Regions from separate parts of the Homo sapiens genome. Here region 2 is linked to region 1. Evidence: fine-mapped expression QTL. A gene starts in region 1. The other region holds a variant in brackets. All regions are shown on one strand. Distances are between the middles of the regions.

Evidence for each region. PIP is the estimated chance that this variant, and not a neighbour inherited with it, causes the effect.
Region 2: its variant is fine-mapped to the expression of AMPD3 in whole blood (INTERVAL, PIP 0.94).

Annotation. Positions count from the first base shown.
Region 1 is chr11:10,451,146-10,460,851 of GRCh38, reverse strand. It overlaps AMPD3 (adenosine monophosphate deaminase 3), which reads right to left and starts at 5,588. Exons shown (of 15, transcript NM_001025389.2): 1 at 5,404-5,588. RefSeq lists enhancers at 1,735-1,864, 4,664-4,713, 8,982-9,111 and a silencer at 9,542-9,671.
Region 2 is chr11:10,496,167-10,507,334 of GRCh38, reverse strand. AMPD3 (adenosine monophosphate deaminase 3) reads right to left here. Exons shown (of 15, transcript NM_001025389.2): 10 at 10,397-10,523; 11 at 7,086-7,249; 12 at 5,745-5,865; 13 at 4,441-4,614; 14 at 2,676-2,786; 15 at 1-1,627. The coding sequence ends at 1,451. Among named protein-coding and RNA genes, the nearest start is that of MIR4485, 6.6 kb to the left of the region's middle. RefSeq lists an enhancer at 6,673-7,266. The variant C/A (reference allele first, on the strand shown) is at 5,899.

The sequences.
Region 1 (9,706 bases):
GCATACTGATTCCTTACTAACAGTCACTGGCCTCAACCACCTGCTTGGTTGGTTGGGTTTCATTCTTGCTTGCTTGCTTTCTTCATTTCCTTATTTCTTTCCTTTTTTGCAATTACTTGTATAGCACTTAATATGTACACTCTGGCCAGGCGCATTGGCTCACGCCTGTAATCCTAGCATTTTGGGAGGCTGAGGCGGGCAGATCACCTGAGGTCAGGAGTTTGAGACCATCCTGGCCAACATGGCAAAACCACGTCTCTACTAAAAATACAAAAAAATTAGCCAGGCGTGGTGGCAGGCACCTGTAATCCCAGCTGCTCAGGAGGCTGAGGCAAGAGAATTGCTTAAACCTAGGAGGTGAAGGTTGCAATGAGCCAAGATTGAGCCACTTCACTCCAACCTGGGTAACAGAGTGGGACTCTGCCTCAAAAAAAAAAAAAAAGTATACTCTGGGGCCGGGTGTGGTGGCTCACGCCTGTAATACCAGCACTTTGGGAGGTCAAGGCAAGAGGACTGCTTGAGCCCAGAAGTTTGAGACCAGCCTGGACAACATGGCAAAACCTCATCCCTAAAAAAGATTTAAAGAATTAGCCAGGTATGGTGATGCATGCCTGTAATCCCAGCTGCTAGGGAGGCTGAGGCAGGAGGATCTCTTGAGCCAGGGAGGTTGAGGCTGCAGTGAGTTATGATCGTACTACTGCACTCCAGCCTGGGAGACAGGGTGAGACCTCGTCTCAATTTTAAAAATAAAATATATATATATATATAAAATATATATTATATATAATATATATTATATATAATATATATTTTATATATGTATACATACATATATATACTCTGCAAAGAACTTCATACTTATTAACTCAGTTAATCTTATTATTCCCACTTGACAGATGAGAAAATGAAGGCATAGAGAGCTAACATGCCCAGGGTCACACTTTTAATAAGTCAGCAGAGATTTGTGCTGTTCTCAGCCTTTCTCTCTCATCCCTTTCCTCTCTGATCCTCAGCTCAGGGATCTGAACCCAGGCACCTGGTTCCTGCCTCTGTCCCCTCACCCACCATGCTGTGCTGCTTCTCTTTGTCCACGTATGTGTCCGGGCAGGGGCTCCTCACAGTCCCCAGCATAACACTTGTGGAATGGATTAATACTGCACCCTTTTCGACAAGCCACCCTCGTTGGGAGCAGCTCTGGAAGAGGAGTTTCCCATCTACCTATGACCACAGTTTCTTTAAAGTTGGTTTAAAGAGAGAAGTGGTTTTGTGGACCAGACAGACAAGAATGGAGATGAGACAGAGCCCTGCTGCTGTCCAGCAGGGAGAAGTGCAGCTACAGGGGAGGGGAACACACTAGGCCATCTTGGGACAGTCATTCTCCGGCCTCACAATGTTCTCATCTGTGAGATAAAGGGATTGAACTAAGTGGTCTCTAAGGCCCTCTCAGCTCTAAGTGGCATAATTCTAGGTACCAGAGAGATTTCCGGTGCCTGAGGAGGGCTTGCTGCTCTGAGTCTGAGTGGCATGTGGGACTAAGTCATGACACAGACAGGAAGGAAGAAAGCAGGCTAGCAACAGGCAATCAGAGTGAGGTCTGTGGCTCCCTTAACTCTGAGACCCAAGGACCTGCCACTCCCTGATGAGAGGAGTGGGAGGGAGCTGGTGGGGAACAGCCTGTCAACACACAACTGTCTGGGGAGCAGACATCAAGACAGCGAGGCCTGGCCTCTGCAAAAAGGAAGAGGAACAGAGCTGCCTGTGGGGATTTCCATGTCTTGATAGCAGAGAGGGGGGAAGCTGGAGGCCATCAAAGGAGGTGACAGGGGAGAGAAAGTCTGGAACAGCACAAAGAACCAGACCCAGGAGGCTCCATCAGGCTGAAACGAAACTGGATCCTCACCTCCCCCCTTATTCCAAGGCCACCAATCAAGGGCACCATCCCAAAACCTCACATCGCATCTCAGAAGAAGATATGCAACCCAACAGCCCAGGCAAAAGGCCGCAAATGCCATAAAGCACCATACCATTTGACTAAGCAACTTTACTTCTACAAATTTCTTTCAAAAAAAGAATCCTAAGAATGAAAAGCACAAGGATATTTACCTGCATTATTTACATAAATAGCTTTAAAATGCCTAAATTAGAGCATACTCACTTGAAAAAGATGTTAAGTAATCAGAATTATGATTATGAGGATGGTGCAATCACATAAAAAAATAAAAATACAGTAAATGAAAAAATTAATACATAGAACCATACCCATGCTTTATTTACAGTGAAAGGAAAATGCATCCCTTTATGGGCAAGACCTGCAAGAGATTCACGCAGTCAAAATGACCAGGTGGCAGGGCTGCCTGTGTGTGAGAGGATATTTTATTTTGATGATGAATGCTATTATAATGCCATTTTTAACAAATACAAAGAGAATAGAAAGAAAATGAGTAGACTTAAGACTCTATGAAAAGAGAGAAAAATAGGAAAACAAACTTCTTTTTCTGGCAGGTTTTGGCAATTAGGGCTCCCTCCTTAATTGCCGAAGGGAGGGAGGGAGGGAGCATCACCATACCTGGCTAATTTTTTTTTTTTTTTTTTTTTTTAGAGATGAGGTTTTGCCATGTTGTCCAGGCAATTTGGGAGGCTGAGGAGGAAGGATCACTTGAGGCTAAGAGTTCAAGATCAGCCTAACCCACACTATTGAGAGGCCAGGCCAAAGGGAGTTTCACCATTCAGACCTATCTCTGTGTTAGCTCCTACCCTGGACAGAAGCCATCCACCACCAGCAGCACCTTCCTACCTCCTTCATGCCCTCAGACACACACAGGCCTGACCCAGACACCCCCAACCAGGCTCCCTTGGCAATGGGTATTTGGGTGGGAGGGAAGTCCTTGATGTCTGAGGGCTCTTATGCCAGATCCTGCCATGTTTGCTCATGAAGCATGCATTTATTCATTGATTGATTGAGAGACAGGGTCTCAGTTGCCCAGGCTGGAGTGCAGTGGCACAATCACAGCTTACTGCAGCCTCGACCTCACAGGCTCCGGTGATTCTCCCACCTCAGCCTCCCGAGTAGCTGGGACCACAGGCACACACCACTATGCCTGGCTAATTTTTGTATTTTTAGTAGAGATGGGGTTTCACCATGTTGGCCAGGCTGGTCTTGAACTCCTGGTCTCAAGTGATCCGCCTGCCTTGGCCTCCCAGGGTCTAGGATTATAGGTGTGAGCCATCATACCAGCGCACAAAGCATTTTTAGCTTGCTCTAATCAACTAAAAATACTTTTCAGGACACAGCTTTCTATAACATATCTTCCTTTCTCTTTAGCTTAAATCAACCTTTCCCAAACTGGATGCCATAAGAAATTGATACCTGTTGCTGGTAAAACAGGTCCTGTGGTCAGTTATTGGGAGATGTTGCATTCCACAGCCCCTCAACTCACATTCATAAGGCTCATTAAAATCAAGGATCATAGAGTAACATTAACATACAGAACCCTTTTTGTTTTACAGAACCCATAAAAATCTTCCGCAGAACTACTACCAGTGTCTTAAATAGTTGGTAGATAATTCATTCCAAGACCGGGTGCAGTGGCTCATGCCTATAATCCAAGCAATTTGGGAGGCTGAAGAGGATCGCTTGAGGCCAGGAGTTCGAGATCAGCCTGGTGCAATATGTCAGAACCTCATCTCTACAAAAAATAGAAAAAAAAACAGCCAGGTGTGGTGGCATGCACCTGTGGTCTCAGCTATTTGGAAGGCTGAGTTGGGAGAATTGCTCGAGTCCTGGAGGTGCAGGCTGCAGTGAGCCATGATGGCACCACCGTACTCCAGCCTGGGTGACAGAGCAAGACCTTCTCTCAAAAAAAAAAAAAAAAAAGCAAGAAACAACAGCAACCACAACAAAATAATTAATTCCATATCTTAGTATGGACCAAGTAACCCACTTGGGGTGCTGCAGGCCTTAGCAGCTGCCCCCACATCTGCTGCCTTCTGGATGTCCTTGGCAGACAGCTCCCACCTGCCAACCCGTCCCTCCAGAGTGTCTCTCCTCTCAGACCCTCCAGACACCTGCCAGGCCAGGCCTGACAAGGAAAGCTCACTCTGCAGATGCCAAGCAGAGCTTCAGCTCCAGCTGCATGTTCACGCCTGGCTTCCAACCCTTTGTCAGCTGAAGCCAGCAGGCTTGGGAGGCTTAGCTGTGAATTCACCAGCATCAGTCAGCCAATGATACAGCTTATCTCACTGTTACATGCAACACGCTCTGATGAACTTGAAGAAGTGTCCCAAAGTTAGAAAGTTCTAAAACACTGCCAGTTTCAACAAACAGTAACTTTTCATGGTGCCACAGTCCCTCCAGAAAGGAAGCCCAGTGCCACTGAAATCCCCTCGTTATACGAAGGAAGCTGGTTCCTACTCTTGCCAGACTCCCCTTGCAGAAGCCCCGACACAGACCTGAGCCTGGCTCCATGACTGGTCCTGAAGATGCCACTCAAGTGATGCACCCGGGTGAGGTGCTGCCTGCCACCCAGGAGGCTCAGCTGAGTCAGTGCGTGCGTGCAGCTGGCTGGGTCCTGTCTGCCGGCTGGAGTAGGAGGTCTCTGTTTTGCATATCTGTGAGCAGCAGTGAGCCAGAGCAGGAAAAGCCTGGGCTGGAAATTCTCTCGTGAATATGAAATATGAGTGGAAAATTTCCAAGAGCCCTGAAGTCCCCAGGTAATCCCAGTTATCCAAAACAAAATGGCTGTGGTATCCTGAATGCAGTGTCCTGGCCCTCTTCACAGCCCTCACAAGAGGAAACTAAAGCGGCGGCTTCCTCTTTACAACAGTAAACTCAGCCGTCCTGCCCAGCTGCAGGAGATAAGCCACAGCCTCCCTCTAACGCCCAGCCTCCTCCTGAAAGCTGAGTAGCAACGAGCGATATCATCACCTTTGCTGCTTCCGTTCTGAACGTGCTTCAGGCCTGGCTGCATTTTATCAAGGGGATTGGTCTCAGGTACAGCCCGACCTGCCTCTTCTCAGAAAGCCCCCCTAAAGCAGCCCTCCCAAGGGCACCCCATAACTGCCAGGGGGAGCTTCAATCCCAGTTGCTAATACAATCCCCTCCATCCCCTCCTCCTCTGAAAGGGAAAGACCATGAACTGCTTCCACCTTTCCCAGGAAAGGACAGAGACTCAGGGAGCAGGAACTGCCTCAGCACAGAGGCGGACAGAGGACAGGGGCAGGCTAGGATGAAAAGCTGACAGCCCCATCCCACTCCTTCCTTTCTTCCCAGAAGGAAGCCCACATCACAGGTGACTGCGAAGCCTGATAAGCTTTACCAGAACCCCCACCCCCATCCACACACACAGAAAAGGAGTACACCCCAACTGACCCACCGGAGCCCACCCCAAACCCTCCCCTGCTTACAGCCGCTCACTGCTCCCACGTGGGCCTCCAGCTCCGAGCGCTGGCTGGACTCTGCCACTCCTCCTGGGGAAGGTGGAGCCTGCCTCAAGTGACCCACAGGAGCAATCCTCTAAAACCAAGCAGGGTTGATTAAAATGGCATCACAGGGTGCAAAGCTCTGATCTTCATCTGCCCTTTAGGAGAGTGGGAAGGCTCAGAACAGACACATAGCCTCCCAGTGACTTAGGCAAATCCTGTGGTCCTGGGAAATAACCATGAGCAAAATGGCTATTTCTGTGGTGCTGTTGAAATCCTGGGGAGAAGAGCTCAGGAAGGATGGGTCAGTTGTTTACCGGGAGGCTAGCTGTAACCCTGACTTGGGCCTGAGTCACCTCCGCATGTCCAATCGTGAGGTTGTGTCTTACTGAGCTCACATCATAATTCCTGTGTGCACAGAGCAGTATTACAGGGTTGACACATGATCCTCGGGCTGCTGCTGGGCTTTAGCTACCCAGAGATTACGGCCCACCTGTCCTCACAGCTGTTTCATAAACAGTGCAACCAGCAGGCTACAAGCAACCTAGAGGGAGGGTAATATTTATTCATTAAACAATTAAATGAACTTACAGTATGAGAAAAAAATCCAAGCCCTTAGTACTATTCTGCCAGAAGGAGGAGGGGCAGATGACTTTTTCTGCTAGTGTTTTGGGGAAAGGGGAGGTAGAGTGGGGACTGCAGTGGGAGGATTCCAGCCCAAGGATTTAAGTCCGACACGTTCAGGGAATTTTATTCTGCACCTTTAACCGGATCCCAGCTAGCCTTAGTCTAAACAAGCATTTTTCAAAGTGCAGTCTGCAGAACATGAAAGGTCAGAAGGCTTGGAAAACACTGCATCCTGTAGTCCCTTATGGGTATTCATGCACAGTTTCTACTAGCAAATTCAACACCTGAGAAGTCCTGCAGTAAAGAAAGCTGCTTAACTTTGTTTAACCCGACGCACTTATTTGACCATCCTAGAACTGCTGTCATAGGAAAAAAACACCTATTAATATCTTGTGGTATCGGCTTTGGGAAACACCCTCCACCTTGAGTCTTCATTTTCCAACTTAGAGAAAGCTGCCTTCCTGGAGCCCAGTTTACAGGTATGAGACCCATTGCATCGGGTTCAGACAGAAACCAGCAGCAGCTCCACTAAGATGACACAGGTTGTAACAATGACCAAGGGTCCTGCTGAAGCCAAAAGGCGGGAAGACTCCCCAGAACATGGGCAGTTTAGAAGAAAAATACAGTTCTGTCCCAGAAGAGCAAGCTCTTCTCAGGACCTCACAATTCCACCTTGAGCCTAACTTGTTGCTGCTTCTTGCAGCCAAGATGTCTCTGTGGACTGAAGAGCACTGATCCCAAGCTCAAAGCCTTATTTCCCTTTCGAACAAACATCAAGACAATTTATGATAACCAGATACAGGGCCCGCTTCTCCTGCCCGAGACTAGACTGCATCCCCTTTTATCACTTAAGCACCCCTTACAAACTCTAAAAGACAGGAGAGGACGGAATCAAATTATGTCTCATCAAGAAAGATATCGGCCGGGCATGGTGGCTCATGCCTGTAATCCCAGCACTTTGGGAGCCCGAGGCAGGTGGATCACAAGGTCAGGAGATTGAGACCATCCTAGCCAACGTGGTGAAACCCCATCTCTACTAAAACACAAAAAATTAGCTGGGCATGGTGGTGCGCACCTGTAGTCCCACCTACTTGAGAGGCTGAGGCAGGGGAATCACTTGAACCCAGGAGGCAGAAGTTGCAGTGAGCTGACATTGCACCACTGCACTGCACTCCAGCCTGGCGACAGAGCAAGACTTTATCTCAAGAAAAAAAAAAAGAAAAAGAAAAAGAAAGATATCACTCTCCTCCCCAAAAGCCAGGCATGAGCTTGCATAGAGGGGTTCATTTTTCTTCTCATTTGTGAGGTGTGTGTGACTCACACAAGGAGTTGGACAAAGGGGATTCACTTGCTAAATACCAGCTCCATGACAAATCTCGCCTGTCTCATTCACAGTTGTATCCCCATACCTGAAATATGGTCGACATTCAGCAAGTATTTGTTGAATGAATGAATGCATAAAACAATGAACAAGTGAACTAGCTATTTATAATAGATCAATCCACCTATGGCAATCTCAGGAATGAGTAGAGTGTATGGCTAAAAACGTAGACTCAGGCTGAGTGTGGTGGCTCACGCCTGTAATCCCAGCGCTTTGGGAGGCCGAGGCGGCCAGACCACTTGAGGTCAGGAGTTTTGAGACCAGCCTGGCCAACATGGGGAAACCCCATCTCTACTAAAAACACAAAAATTAGCCTGGCATGGTAGCGGGCGCCTGTAATCCCAGCTACTTGGGAAGCTGAGGCAGGAGAATCGCTTGAACCCGGGAGGTGGAGGTTGCAGTGAGCTGAGATTGTGCCACTGCACTCCAGCCTGGGTGACAGAGTGAGACTCCATTTCAAACAAACAAACAACAACAAAAAAAACTCCAGCTAGACTCCCTGCATTTGAATCCTGTTCCACCACTTAGTTGTATGACCTTGGGCAAGTTAAATAACTTTTCTGTGGCTCGGTTTTATTCCCTATGAAGTGTGGATAATAAAAAGCCAATCTCATAGGTTGCCATGACAATGAGCATAAGTGAAGTGTTTAGACTGGTACCTGGCATAGAGTATGTGTTTTATAAGCATTATCTGCCAACATCATTGTCATCATCATTATGATATCAGATACGAGAGAGAAGAACTAGGAAAATGAACATGAAGTTTTATCTAGACACTGAATCCTTTTATTCAACCTTATTTATTGAGCACCACCATGTGCCTGGCACTCTCCCAAGTTTCTATTACCTGGGTGCAGGAAGAAGGAAAACATATTTAAATGTGAAGCCAGATCAGGAGGAGGAACATCCTTCTCCCCTATGAATGGTACTTCTCGGTGACTGTACACAGCCAGGACTCCAGCCATGAGCTCATCCTCCCATGCCCCAGTCAGTTCCTTACAAATCAAAAGCCCAAAGCAATTGTCTGTTGTCCTAGATATGCAACCAGCATACAGAAGAACTAAGAGATTATTATACTTGGTGGAAGAATCATGGAGGCCAATGGGCAGCTTTAGGGGAGAAAGGGTATCTCCCTGTTAACCCGAAGGCTACATGTTATCTGCCCATGACATTTTCAAGACCTGAGACAGATTTTGAGGCCATTTGAAGAGTGATCCAGTCAGTGTAGAGGCAAAAAAAAACAACTACAAAAAACCTCATCTCTCAAAGAGCTTCTTGACCTAGCTGAGAGCTAGGAGAACCTTAGAAGACAGAGGCTGAGCTAAGGATGGGACTGAGAGGTCAAAGAGTCTCCCAGCCACCACCTATGCAGGTGTCATTATTCCTAGAGAGGGCAGCCCCATACCATCATCCTCAGAGCAAGCCAGGCCCCATGAAGCTGCAGCCAGGCCAGGCCAACTACCCCAGACCTGCTGTCAACACTCCTAGAGGTGTGAAGTGACAGAGGCTCTGTCTGTCTGGCTCAATGGCTCCACTAACACTCGGCCTTAGTGCTGCACAGCCAGGGAAAGAATTTCTCCTCTGCAGGTTCCAGCTGCAGGCAGCTTTTCCATGAAGATGGCCAAATGTTGGTCACTGCATCCTGAGGGAAAGCCAACAGGGGCTCAAGACCATGCTAAAATCCCTCCTTGTGCTGCCTGCTTTCACCCAGCTCCTTTGCTGATGTGTCGCCATCAAGCTTTCAGCCACATACAGTTTGGGGAAATGATACCCTAGTTAGCAAGCCTCTCCTACTCCAAGGCCTCTCAAAACTCTCCCCAGGGACCTCTGCCAGCCTACAACAGCCATTAGCAGCTCTGCTGGCAAAGCAGCTACCAGAAGATCAAGGGCAGAAAGCAGACTGCCAGAGCCCAAGGCTGTACACCTCCCTTGCCGGGAGAGAGCCAAAGAGGTAAGGATGAAGGCCTCAAACGACCTCATCACCCTATCATCCAGTGCATCCCTCGCCTCCAGGTAGAAGTCCACCTCAGCTGTCCACATCCAGCCAGTCCTCAAGCACCTAGGAACTTTGCCCAGGGTGGCAAGTCCCAGGTCCCTTAATTTCTCTAAACCTTGCGATTCCATTCTAGGCCGCCAGGGAATCGGGATGCTGCCCGCTCACCTGAGGCCGCTGGGGCTCGGGCCACCGCAGAGGCAGGGGTAGGGACAGGGACAGGAACAGGGGACAGGGCAAGGGATCGGACCGGAGTCAGCGCCACCGCCTCTGCGAGCAGGGAAGGC
Region 2 (11,168 bases), 46 kb before region 1:
AGGGGACAGGCATTATAAAGTCACAAGATGAGACAATCTAAAGTCAAATAAGTTCACAGGCAGAAACTGGATTCTTCTTCTAACTATAATGATTCAAAAAGACCTCCTGTAGTCTGAATTTGACCACAGAAATAGATAGGAAGGTCCTTGAGCAGCCTCTTAAGTACTAAGAGCACATGTCCTTAAAAAGTTGCCAAAAGAAATTCACTTAGTTATTCAATATGCATTTATTGAGCACCTACTACATACCAGGCACTAGTAACACAGATAAAGAGTACACTGATAAAGCTTAATTCAGATTAATCTTTAAAAATGCTTTCTACTTGGCCCCTGGGACCATTGTATCTTCTGAAGTCATCATAGTAGATAAGGGAGAAATTTTGCCTTAAAAAAATGCATCCGGTTACAGTGATTAAAAACACACACACACACACACACAACTAACATTTGTGGGGTCTAATGGAATAGTGGGGAAAAGACAGGATTTGGAATAAGGAAATCCAGTTTAGGCCTATTACTTATTAGCTGTGTGCCCTTAAGTTAAATTTCACTTATCTGGCCTAACTCTTAATTGGTAAAGTGATAATTGGCCTACAGTTGTAGCATATTAGAGCCAAAAGGAACAGAGATCATCTAGTCCTGTGCTTTTTGAAGTTCTTCGTTCAAATGAAAATATTATGTAGCAGCCCCAGTGTAAAACTGATGAACGCAGTCACTTTGACAGCCCCTGAGCATCACTCACTCCCTTCCCTCCCCTACCCTAAAGTATTCATGAGGAGATTCACAGAACACCCTGAAAGCCACTCATCTAGTCCAAACCCTCACTTTCTAGGTGAAGAAACCAAGACTCAGAATAGGAGTGGCTGTTTTCATGAGTACATTTGGCTTCCAACTAGAAAGAGGGAAGGAGGGCTAAATAAAACGGTTTAAGAAATTCACTAAAAACACAATTTGTCAAGAAGGAAGTCTTCCATCTTAACTCCTTCAAAGTAGCCCCTTTATGAAATGGAGCTTTGAAATTGATTGTGTTTAAGGCAGCCAGCCATCCAGAGGCTGAAATGAACAACTACCAATTAGCCTACCTGGGCCAATGGAGAAAAGTATGGCAGAAAACCACATGTTACTTGGCATCTGACCAGGGAAAATCCTGGCCCCAACAGTTCAGGCACTGGCAGTTTCAAGAGAAATACTTGGAAAATTAGGAACAAGTATAGACAAGTGCTCAGCTCCCAGATCCCCAAGGAGAAGTCACCATCTTGTTACTCAGAAATACTAACAAGTGAGCATGTTAACTCTTAAAGTGAGCAGTGCAACCAAAATCACCAGTTTAAAATTTCTTCAGAGGCATCCTCTTCACAGAGGAAAGTCCTAGTTCGGAATCTTGACCACTATTAGCCACAGCAGACTTGAAATTGAACCAAAAAGTTAAAATGCATGTCAAATGCTGGACCTAGTTGGTCAAGGCGGTGATCTCTTCTGATTTCATAGCATCAGACAGGAAGCTGAGCTCATTGCATAAGGTCTCATATCGGAATGCCATCCGGATCTGAGCCACATTTGTCTTTCGAATATCATTTCCTTCAGGTCCTTCTTTATAATAATTTTGTCCCAGAAACTTTTGCTTTTCCTGTGGACCAAGAGAAATACAAATGAAACTATATACTTTTGATTCACTTTCTATAGCCATGTGGGCAGCTTTGACATCAGTCACAGCAAGTCAGACTAGTCCCCCTGAAGCAGATCTTTGGTCAGGACATCTTATCCCCACAGAACTCTTAAAATTCCTGCTGGCCTCTGTGTCCTCAAGGATGTCACCCTGACAACCTCAGTCATCCTCAGACAGCCCTTCATTCCTGGCTGTGCTTTCCTTGATCAGAGAGGAAAGATAAGGTCTGCAGCAGCTGCTGGGGATGGGAAAGGCAAAGGGGAAGGAGGTAAGACTCTAATTAAGAAGCCCCTGAGAGCTGACAAGGACAATGTTCCTGGGGAGGGCCAATCCAAGGCACCACACTGCGCATGAAAAGAATCTTAAGCCTTTAACTCTGCTGCATCATCATCCGACGAGCACAGCCCCTAATGCAACCTCTTCCCAACCAGTGACATCACCCAGGGAGGTGTCGGGGGACCTAACGTACATCAGAACATGGGTCTCAGTGCCAGCTCCTCATCAGGCTTTTTAAAAAATGACAGATGTCTGAGTCCCATAGTCTAGATTTTTATTCAGTCTAGATACTGTTCATCTATTCAAGAAATATTGAGCGCCTGCTATGTGCCAGGGACTATCTAGGGCCCGGGGATATAATTCTGAACAAACCTCTGCCCTCACAGAGCTTACATGCTAGAGGGAAAGACAGAAAAACACATAACTAAACATCAGCAGGAATAAATGGTATGGAGAAAAACTGATTAAGGGGATAGAGAATAATAGCAAGTGTGTGGCTATTTTAGAATGGGCGATCAGGGAAGGCCTCTCCAAGGAGGCGTAGAGGTCTGAGAAGGGTGAGGAAGCAGCCATGAAAACACAGGAGGCTGCCGCGTCTTCTCTCCCTGTGCCTGAGTGTCTCAGAGGCCCTGCCTGCTATGTTCATCACAGATCCCCAGTGCCTGGAAGGCTCCTGGCACACAGCAGGCAGCCTTCCCAGGAGGGACACAGGCAGCACCGTCACACTCCATACCTGATGCGAGAGGCCGCTCTGCAGCACGCTGTTCCTGGCGATCTCACACAGGTCGCAGGTGCTCAGCTTCCACACTTGAGCTGCAATGGCATATTCTTCCATAAGTGCTTCCTAGATCCTCCCCCAAAGCATGTGGATTAGAAGGGGGGATATCCATGTCAATCGTTCACACATGTCCAAAGCTAACAACATCAGACACTGCGGGTTTAACTTTTCCTCACTAAATGGCACCTGGATCATCAAACATCACACCTTCAAAGCCTAAGATCTTTTCTTCTGTAAAATCATGGGTTATCAAAGAGAGATCTAAAATCACGCCTCTACATTTATTCATTGACCAGCACTGAGACCTCATGTTGAAACCCTGTGCCAGTCATCAGGGATGGCAGTCTCTGCTCTCCTGTGACAAGCCCTCTAGTCATGCCACATTTAGCACTTGCCCTCTAGCTTTTCTTTTTAACACACTATTTTCTTAAGTTTGCAATAGATAGATAGATGATAGATAGATAAATAGATAGATAGATAGATAGATAGATAGATAGATGAGTAAAGTACTAAAAGCAGAGATGGAACATCAAAAAAAAAATGAGAAGTGATCATAGGATAAGTGGTAAAATGGTGTAATCCCAGAATGATCTGGGTTTGAGCTGTGGTTTTGCTTCCCTTCTGGGATGTGAAGTGTCTATTCATCACAAGCCGTCTGTGACCTCTTCCCCACCCCACTGCCGCTGTAGCCTAGAGCAATAGTTCTCGAAGTACAGGTCAAGGACCCCTGAGGGTCCTAAGACCTTTTGAAAGGTCTTGTCTTTTCCAATTATGTATTTTCATGAGGCAAGATTTCTATTTTTACATATTTTGATTAAAAACAAATTGAATGCAGAAGTGGCTAGAAGAGTCCTGCTGACTTCCATTAAGACATTAAAGAGGCTTAAAAATGCAAAACAAAGGCAGGGGAAACTGTTACTTTTCAGAAAAAAAATCATTATTATGTAACATTTCATTGGTTTATTGATGTGGTTTTTAAATGAGATAATAAATATTTTAAAATTTCTTATTCATTTCTAACATGGTAAATATCAGTAGATATAACCCACATAAACAACAGGTCTTTGAAAGCTTCAATTCTTAAGAGTATAAAGGGGTCCAGAGACCAAGAGGTTGGAGAACCTCTGTCCTAAAAGACTCTGGTGCTTCTGTTTTTGTTAAGCAATGGCTGGTCTTGTCGACACCATCAAAACATGCTGGGTATACTTGCGGCTAGTCCCCATGCATGACACCACTGTTAGCTTCCTCTTTTATTTTCCCAGAGACCCAAAGTGTAGAAATTATAATAGCATTGATTTAAAAAGTAGCAACCATTTTGAATATATGCAGACACTATGTTAGAACCTTTGATTCATTATCTTCATGAATCCTTACAGGGTAGGGACAGAGAAAATTTTATCTCCATTTTACAGATGAAGAAGAACTTGATCCAGAAATCTAATAACTTTACCAAGGTCACAGAGCTCATAAATGTCAAAGAAAGAGAAAATAGAGGAAGGCAAAGATACTAAATTGTGCCTTTGAGGGTTCAAGAACCCCAAAGAAAGGGCTCCTGGATGGCACAATTTTCCCCCAACAGTGGCTTCCTTCCTGCCTTCACTGGGCCACCAACCCCACCCCAAAAGCAGAACTAAGCCATGGGCTCAGGTTCCTGAAATGGGAGGACAGGCTAGGACTGGTGCCTACTGAAGCACTACTGTCCTCACCCCAAAGTCCTTACCTTCGTGTAGTGGAACTGCATGGGGTCATCGGTGGAAAGAGAAACATGCAGTCCCTTGTGTAGGAATTCCCTCAGAGGGTTCTTGGAATATTCGAGGAACAAACTGTTGTTGCTAAGAGGAGACATGGCAATGGGGATCTGAGCAAGGTAGTAGAGATACTGCAATACCGGACTCTGCAAAAGAACCACCGAACTCATGTGACAAGTGCCAGAGAGGGGAGAAGGGAAAAGGGAAGGGAGAAAGGAAGGGAAGAAGCATTCACCAGTGGAAACCAGGGGTCTGAACCATGTCTGCCCAAGTCCTCAACCCGAGTTCCTCGAAGCCAGGACACTCAGACCCACTCTCCCCTTCCCCACTGTTCATCTCATTCCTACATTGCATGCCAGCCCTCCCTGGTGCCTCTACCCACTGTTGGAAGTGCTCATTCTTGCTCCAAACTGGAGGCAAGGCTCAGGGCAGGAAGGGCAGCCCACTCCAGCCTACACCTTCAGCTCCTTTCTCCTAGGCACGGACCCAGTCTAGAAGATGCCCCCCTCTAGCTGTTTTATTGCTTTGACTGCAAACAGCCAGGTTGAGACTATAAACACTCCAGCTCCTGGGAGATGATCCCTGAAGGGATGGGAGGGGTGGACCTGCCCAGGATAGAGTGGTTTTCTACTGTAGCACCCACCCCACCCAAAAATGTGACCCATGGTTACACCTCACCGGGATCAGGGAAAGGGAGCATTTTGATCAAACATCGTGCCAATGGAAAGTGATCCAAAATACGGAGAAGACTGTATGCACAGAGCTCAAGGGTACACCAGTGAAAAGGTGGATGGACTCTGTGCCCAACTAGTGTGGACTGGTTGAGTCAATTACAGACAAAGTGGCAGACCCTTCATCCAACAACAGCCTTTGGAAAAAGGAGCATAGATATTACGTTGCAGCATCAAAAAATGCTTGTCATACAACAGTAAGGGACGAGGCAGGAACCAAATTCTGTGTTCATTATGATAATAAACACATTAAAAATATGCTGTGGATAAAAGATGGAAATTAGATATACTAAAAAGCTAATAATGGCTATTTCTATTAATGTAATAGCATAAGGGCTGGCTTTTTTCCATTTCTCCAGTTTTTGGAAAATCAAAATTGTGATGAGTTTGATTATATTACTTTCATAATTAAAAATAAAACCAAGATAAGGACAGACATCCCAGCCCAGAAGAGGGCCCAGCCTTCTGGCCTCACTGGTTGAGCCTCCCAGGAGCCCAGGGCAGGGCAGTCACTCAGGACGGGCTCCCGAGAGTGACCTGGTTACCTTCTTGAGGAGCAGCCCGTGGGAAATGTTGTCAGCAGTGAGGAAGGCAGACACCAGGTGGGTGATGGAGCCGGCTTCCCCACAGTGCGGCCGGAACAGGAACGTGCTCAGGCCGCGCTCCCTGTAAGAGAAGGGGTTTCCGAATCAGGAAGGC[C/A]CCCCCCAGTTGGCTCTGCCTGGGGCCTGCAGCCACAGCTCAGGGCCAGCTCCGGGGGGAATGACCACCCATGGTCAGCTGTGCTGACCCAGTGCACCCTGGAAACTACCCCTCCTAAAATGCAGAGGTCCAGGCCCTGGGGCCCCTTAGAACCAAGAAGCATCACCTCTACGGGCAGAGAGTGGGCCTCGCAGTAGAAAGAGACCCTGCTGTGCCCTCCAGCCACTCTCCTGAATTCCTCTCCTGGCCTTGTGTCCCGCATTCGTAGAACTCCAGAGCAGGGAAGGCCATGAGAAACCACAGAGTCTGACCTCTGTGTTATGGAAATGGGCAAACCAAGGCCCGGAGAGTGAAGTCTATGTTCCATGCCACTGAACAGGTCAGTAGCAAAGCCAGAACCAGAGCCCCCATCTCCAAAAGCTCAGCCCAGGACTGCCTCCACCCTGCCAGGCCATTTCTTTCAATCAGGACCCCATTCGAAACCTCCACACCCACCAACTAGCACCAGTTTAGGCTGAGCTAGAGAGACCCCAGGGCCCAGCAGGGGAAAGTGGGATGCAAGACTTGTAGGGAAGGGAATGGCTCAGTGTCCTGCTGCCCTGGGCAGCTAACTCCTGGCCACGTGTGCCTCGTCTGTGTGCGTATTGGTAGGAGCCTCTGCCTGTAAGGGCATGCATGGATTTAGTCTGTTTTGTTCCCCGTTATTTGTCCAGTGCCCAGGGCAATGCCTATCGCATGCCAGATGCAGTGATTTGCTGAACGAAAATATGCACGTGTGGACATTGTTGGTGTGGCAGTAAGTGACCGTGCATGTGTGATAGCATGTCCTATGCTTCCATTATCTCAGGGATGTACAGGTACACGTGGAGTGTGCCCTGGTGTGTGTACATATAAATGTGTGGACACGTGTGGACTGTGGCTGCATTGCATACTGTACATGACATATGTCTGTACTGGCATGTGTGTTATGGTGGGCATGTTTGCATGTGTGTGATCATGTGGAGACATGCCTCATATAGCAGGCTGGAAAGTGCTGTGTGTTTTGAGGTGTGTGGGCACATGGACATGCATGTTGGTTCAGGTGCACACGGACACAAGGATCACATGCATGTGTGTGTGCATGTGTGTGCATGCGTGCATGTACTAACACATGAACCCAAGCATGTGCGAGGGCAGGCCTCACGCACCTGCGGAGGTTGTTGAGCACCATGATGTTGGCATACATGTAGTACAGGTAGTAGCTGTAGGGTGGGTTCTGCTCACTGGTCCAGACGTCCGGGTTTGGGCTCTTGTCGGAAAACATGTGGTCGCTGTGCTTGGACTCATCATCCACGCTGTCAAACCCCGTCACCTGGGCAGGAGAGGTCCTGAGCACCAGGCCAAGGCAGGACCAGGACTCAGCCTCGGTTCAGCCTCCCAGAGCTCATAGCTGCCAGAGGCCTGTGGGTCTGGGCCCCTCAGGTTCACACCTCAGCTGGGGACCCCTTGGCCTGCCTGAGGCCATATTCCTCCCAGGGATGAAAAGTGGGTACAACACCAAGGTCTGCCCCTTCGGAGCTTCCATAGGTACTCTGGAGGTGAGACAGGAGAGTGCCAAGCCCCTGTGTGGTGGTGGTGACAGTGGAGGAAACTGCCAAGCCAGGTGAAGGGCAAAGCAGCCATGGCCACCACCTGCCCCTCTGCTATGCCGAGGCCAGCCTGCAGGGAGGAGTGGCCATTGCCATCAGCAGCAGCGACAAGCGATGAGGGAAAAGGGTCCTAGTACACATCACTCATCAAGCCCTGCTCAAAGCACTTTACTCACGTCAGTTAATTCATATTCAGAGCAACCCAGGAGGGAGGGGTTGGCTGCCAGCCCCATTTTACAATTGAGCAAACCAGGGCCAAAGCAATTAAGAAAGTTGCTCAAGAAACCAGGTTTGGCCAGACATGATGGCTCATGCCTGTAATCCTAGCACTTTGGGAGGAGGAGACGGGCAGATCACGAGGTCAGGAGTTCGAGGCCAGCCTGCCCAACATGGTGAAACTCCGTCTCTAGTAAAAAAAAATACAAAAATTAGCTGGGCATGGTGGCGTGCACCTGTAATCTCAGCTACTCAGGAGGCTAAGGCAGAAGAATCACTTGAACCCCGGAGGTGGAGGTTGCAGTGAGCCGAGATCGCACCAGCCTGGGTGACAGAGCAAGACTCCATCTAAAAAAAACAAAAAACAAACAAACAAAAAAAACAGGTTCTGGGCTCTGGGTCTGCACTCTTTGGGGCGGTAGGTAGAGAATACTCTAGGGCATGTCCAGGTGTGGCCAGGAGAAACCCGCCAGCTGCCTCACAGACAGATAAGAGGGTCCTTGCTGGGCTAAGCCATGGCTCCTGGGAGGCAGCTCTGCTCTCCAATCCCCACTGGGAGCTGCCCTCTGAGATGGGCCTGAGTAGCCTCAGGAAACCCCCACCCTTCCACTGCAGTTCTACCTTGGCTGGGACCCCTGGGGGGCTGCTCCTGAGTCACTGGAGCCTTCTGGCTGATCCCAGGGGTCATCCCCAACCAAGAACACATGCATGGAGGGTACGGGCTCTCAGCGCACAGGGGAGGCTTGCTACCAGGCCACGGCAGTGCTTTGCAAAGGGGCCTCTGAATAGCAGATGGGAGAAAGAGACTGTCCCCCTTAATCCACAACTGGCCCAAACTGGAGGGCTCCCAGCCCACGCCCCAGACCCCAGCCAGGTCTGCTGGCCTCTCCTGTTCCTATGGGGGCAGCAAAGGCCCAGAGGAGCAAGGCAGCTTGGCCAGAATCTTCCGTGTCACAGAGCCCTGTGTGTCAAAGGAAATGACAGGGTCCCTGCTATGACCCTAAGCACTCCCTAGACGGGTTTGGGGGGCCAGGGAGGACCTTGAGCTCTGCTCTGTGCTCACTAGCTCCATACTTCACCCGAACTTTCTGGGGCCTGGCATGCGGATAATTTCAGCCCCTCTTCAGAGCTCTATCCAGCTGAAGCAGGGCCTCACCACTGCATCTCCCACAGCCTCGGGTGCAAAATGCGTTGTCTCCTCCTCCTGCTCTTCCTCCTCCTCCCCATACCTGCTCTTCCTCCATTGCTGGCAGCAACCTTCGGACAGCACATCATCCATGCTCCTGCAAAGCCAGGCACCTGGGAGGCATCCTAGACTCCCCCCAGTGCCTCCTTCAGTCTCTGTCCAGGTCCTGCCAGGTGTACGCCCACCGCTTCTCACCAAGCCCCACACTTTGTGCAGAGTCCCTGCGCTGCCACACCTCAGAGACGCAAGCTGGTAGCTGCTGTGCACCTTACTATTCTCACTTGGGAGGCAACATAGAATAGGGGTTCAGGGTACATCGCTGGAGTCAGCCTGCCTGGAAACGCATTCCAGCTCTGCCACTTTTAGCTTTATGATCTGTTTTAATTTCCTTGTGTGTCAATTGAAGCTAGCAGCTTCACAGGGCTTTGGTGAGGATTAAATGAGATAATCCAGGGAGAGCACTCAACACCGTGTCCAACACGCACCAAGCACATAATAATTCCGCTTACTGTTAACAACAAAATGGTGATAGTAACGGGGTAATTGTGAGGCTTAGGTGAGATCACGTTGTGGCGTCTGACCAGGCCAGGCAGAAGCACGCACGAGTGTGAGCTATTTCCGCTGGGTCAAGCTCCCCTCCTGTCTCCAGGCAGGCCCCTGACTCTCACCCCTGCCCCCACCTCCAGCTACCTTCTCTTCTGGGCCAACTCCACACAACAGCCAGAATATGTTTGTCTAAAACATAAATTTGATGATGTCCCTCAGCTTGTCCAGTCACTTTCTGGGCACACAGACTCAATTCTTTCCCCGTGCCCCAGCCCTCGGGCTCCCCGCTGTGCCTCTCCCTGTAGAAAGTCATCCATCACCAGGCACTGGCCTGTATCACCATCTGATACCCCCTCGATCCCAGGCATCCGGAGGGTGGGACCGGCTCCCGCCCCCTCCGCCTCCCTCCCTGGTTAAGCCTCTCCCAGACTGCTCCTCTCCTTCTCCTACAACTGGATCCGGAAGGGAAATACACTTTAGGGGCTTGTACTTAATCACACATGGTGTGAGGGCCTCTGTTGCGAGGTAAAGCAGGTGAATTGAAGTGTTTGCATTTCCGAAAAAAAAACCTGAGGCTGCTGCTTGGTGCTGCCGGGGGCTAGATCCAGCCTTTCCAGCCCCACCTGGCAGGAACCGAGTTCCCAGTCTTTGCCCACTGTTGCCTTCCCTGCTGGGGGAAAGGCCTACCCCAAGACCACCACCCCCATCCCCCCACACCCACTGACTCCCAGAGCTGCCCCTGAGGAGAAGGGGACTTTTTAGAAATCTAGCTTCTTGGGGCTGGTGACCCCACGCCTGGAACACAGGTGGCAGGACCTAAGATACCATCGTGAAGGGCAGGAGCAAGCCTGACCCAGCTCACAGCGAATCCATTCCTGCCTCTGCCGCTATGAGCCCTGCCTAGGGCACCACCCACACTTACATATTTAAGGAAGAGGTGAAGCTCTCGATGATCTTGGGGGTTGATAGTGGCCTTGAAAAGGGGCAGGAAGATGTTCTCCAGCATCTTCCCAAAGTTTGGCAGCAGCTTCTTTGACCTAAATATGTCACTGGGGGACAGCAAAGACTCGCTTGTCAGGTGGATCCAACAGCCTGCTGCCCTGTCAGAGACCAGCCCCAGTCACTTCCTCAGGCACCCTGTGTCCCCATCAAACACCCAGAATCAAGTCAGATGGGACCAGAAAACAGATCCCTCCTCTGTCCTCCTCTCCCAGCAATGTCTGCAATATTCTGCCTTGGTTTGCAAGCTCCACACCTACCCATGCCCATCAGAGCACTTTCTCAAGCCAGAAGCCACTAGGAATGGGATGGTGGCATTCTGGCTGACCAAGAGACTGAGATATGAATCCTCAAATTCCCAGTGACCCAAACATTCTGTTACTCAGCTCTGTTTCCCTAAACCACATACCCCAGCCCATCCTGGAGCCATGGGCTCCACCCTGGCCAGCCGCCTGGAGAGGACAGCAGCCGTCTGAGTGACATCCAGGGAGAGGCCAGCAATGTAGACCACTACAGCTCTCCCCATACCCTGGGGCTCACCAAAAGGACAATCCATCCTCAACCCACAATGAGAAGAAGGCGGGGGTAGTAGTTCCCCCAAGGCCTTTGCACATCTATATTTTTCAAAGATCAAGAGTTCTAGTGTCAGCTGGATGCAGTGGCTCACACCTGTAATCCCAGCATTTTGGGAGGCT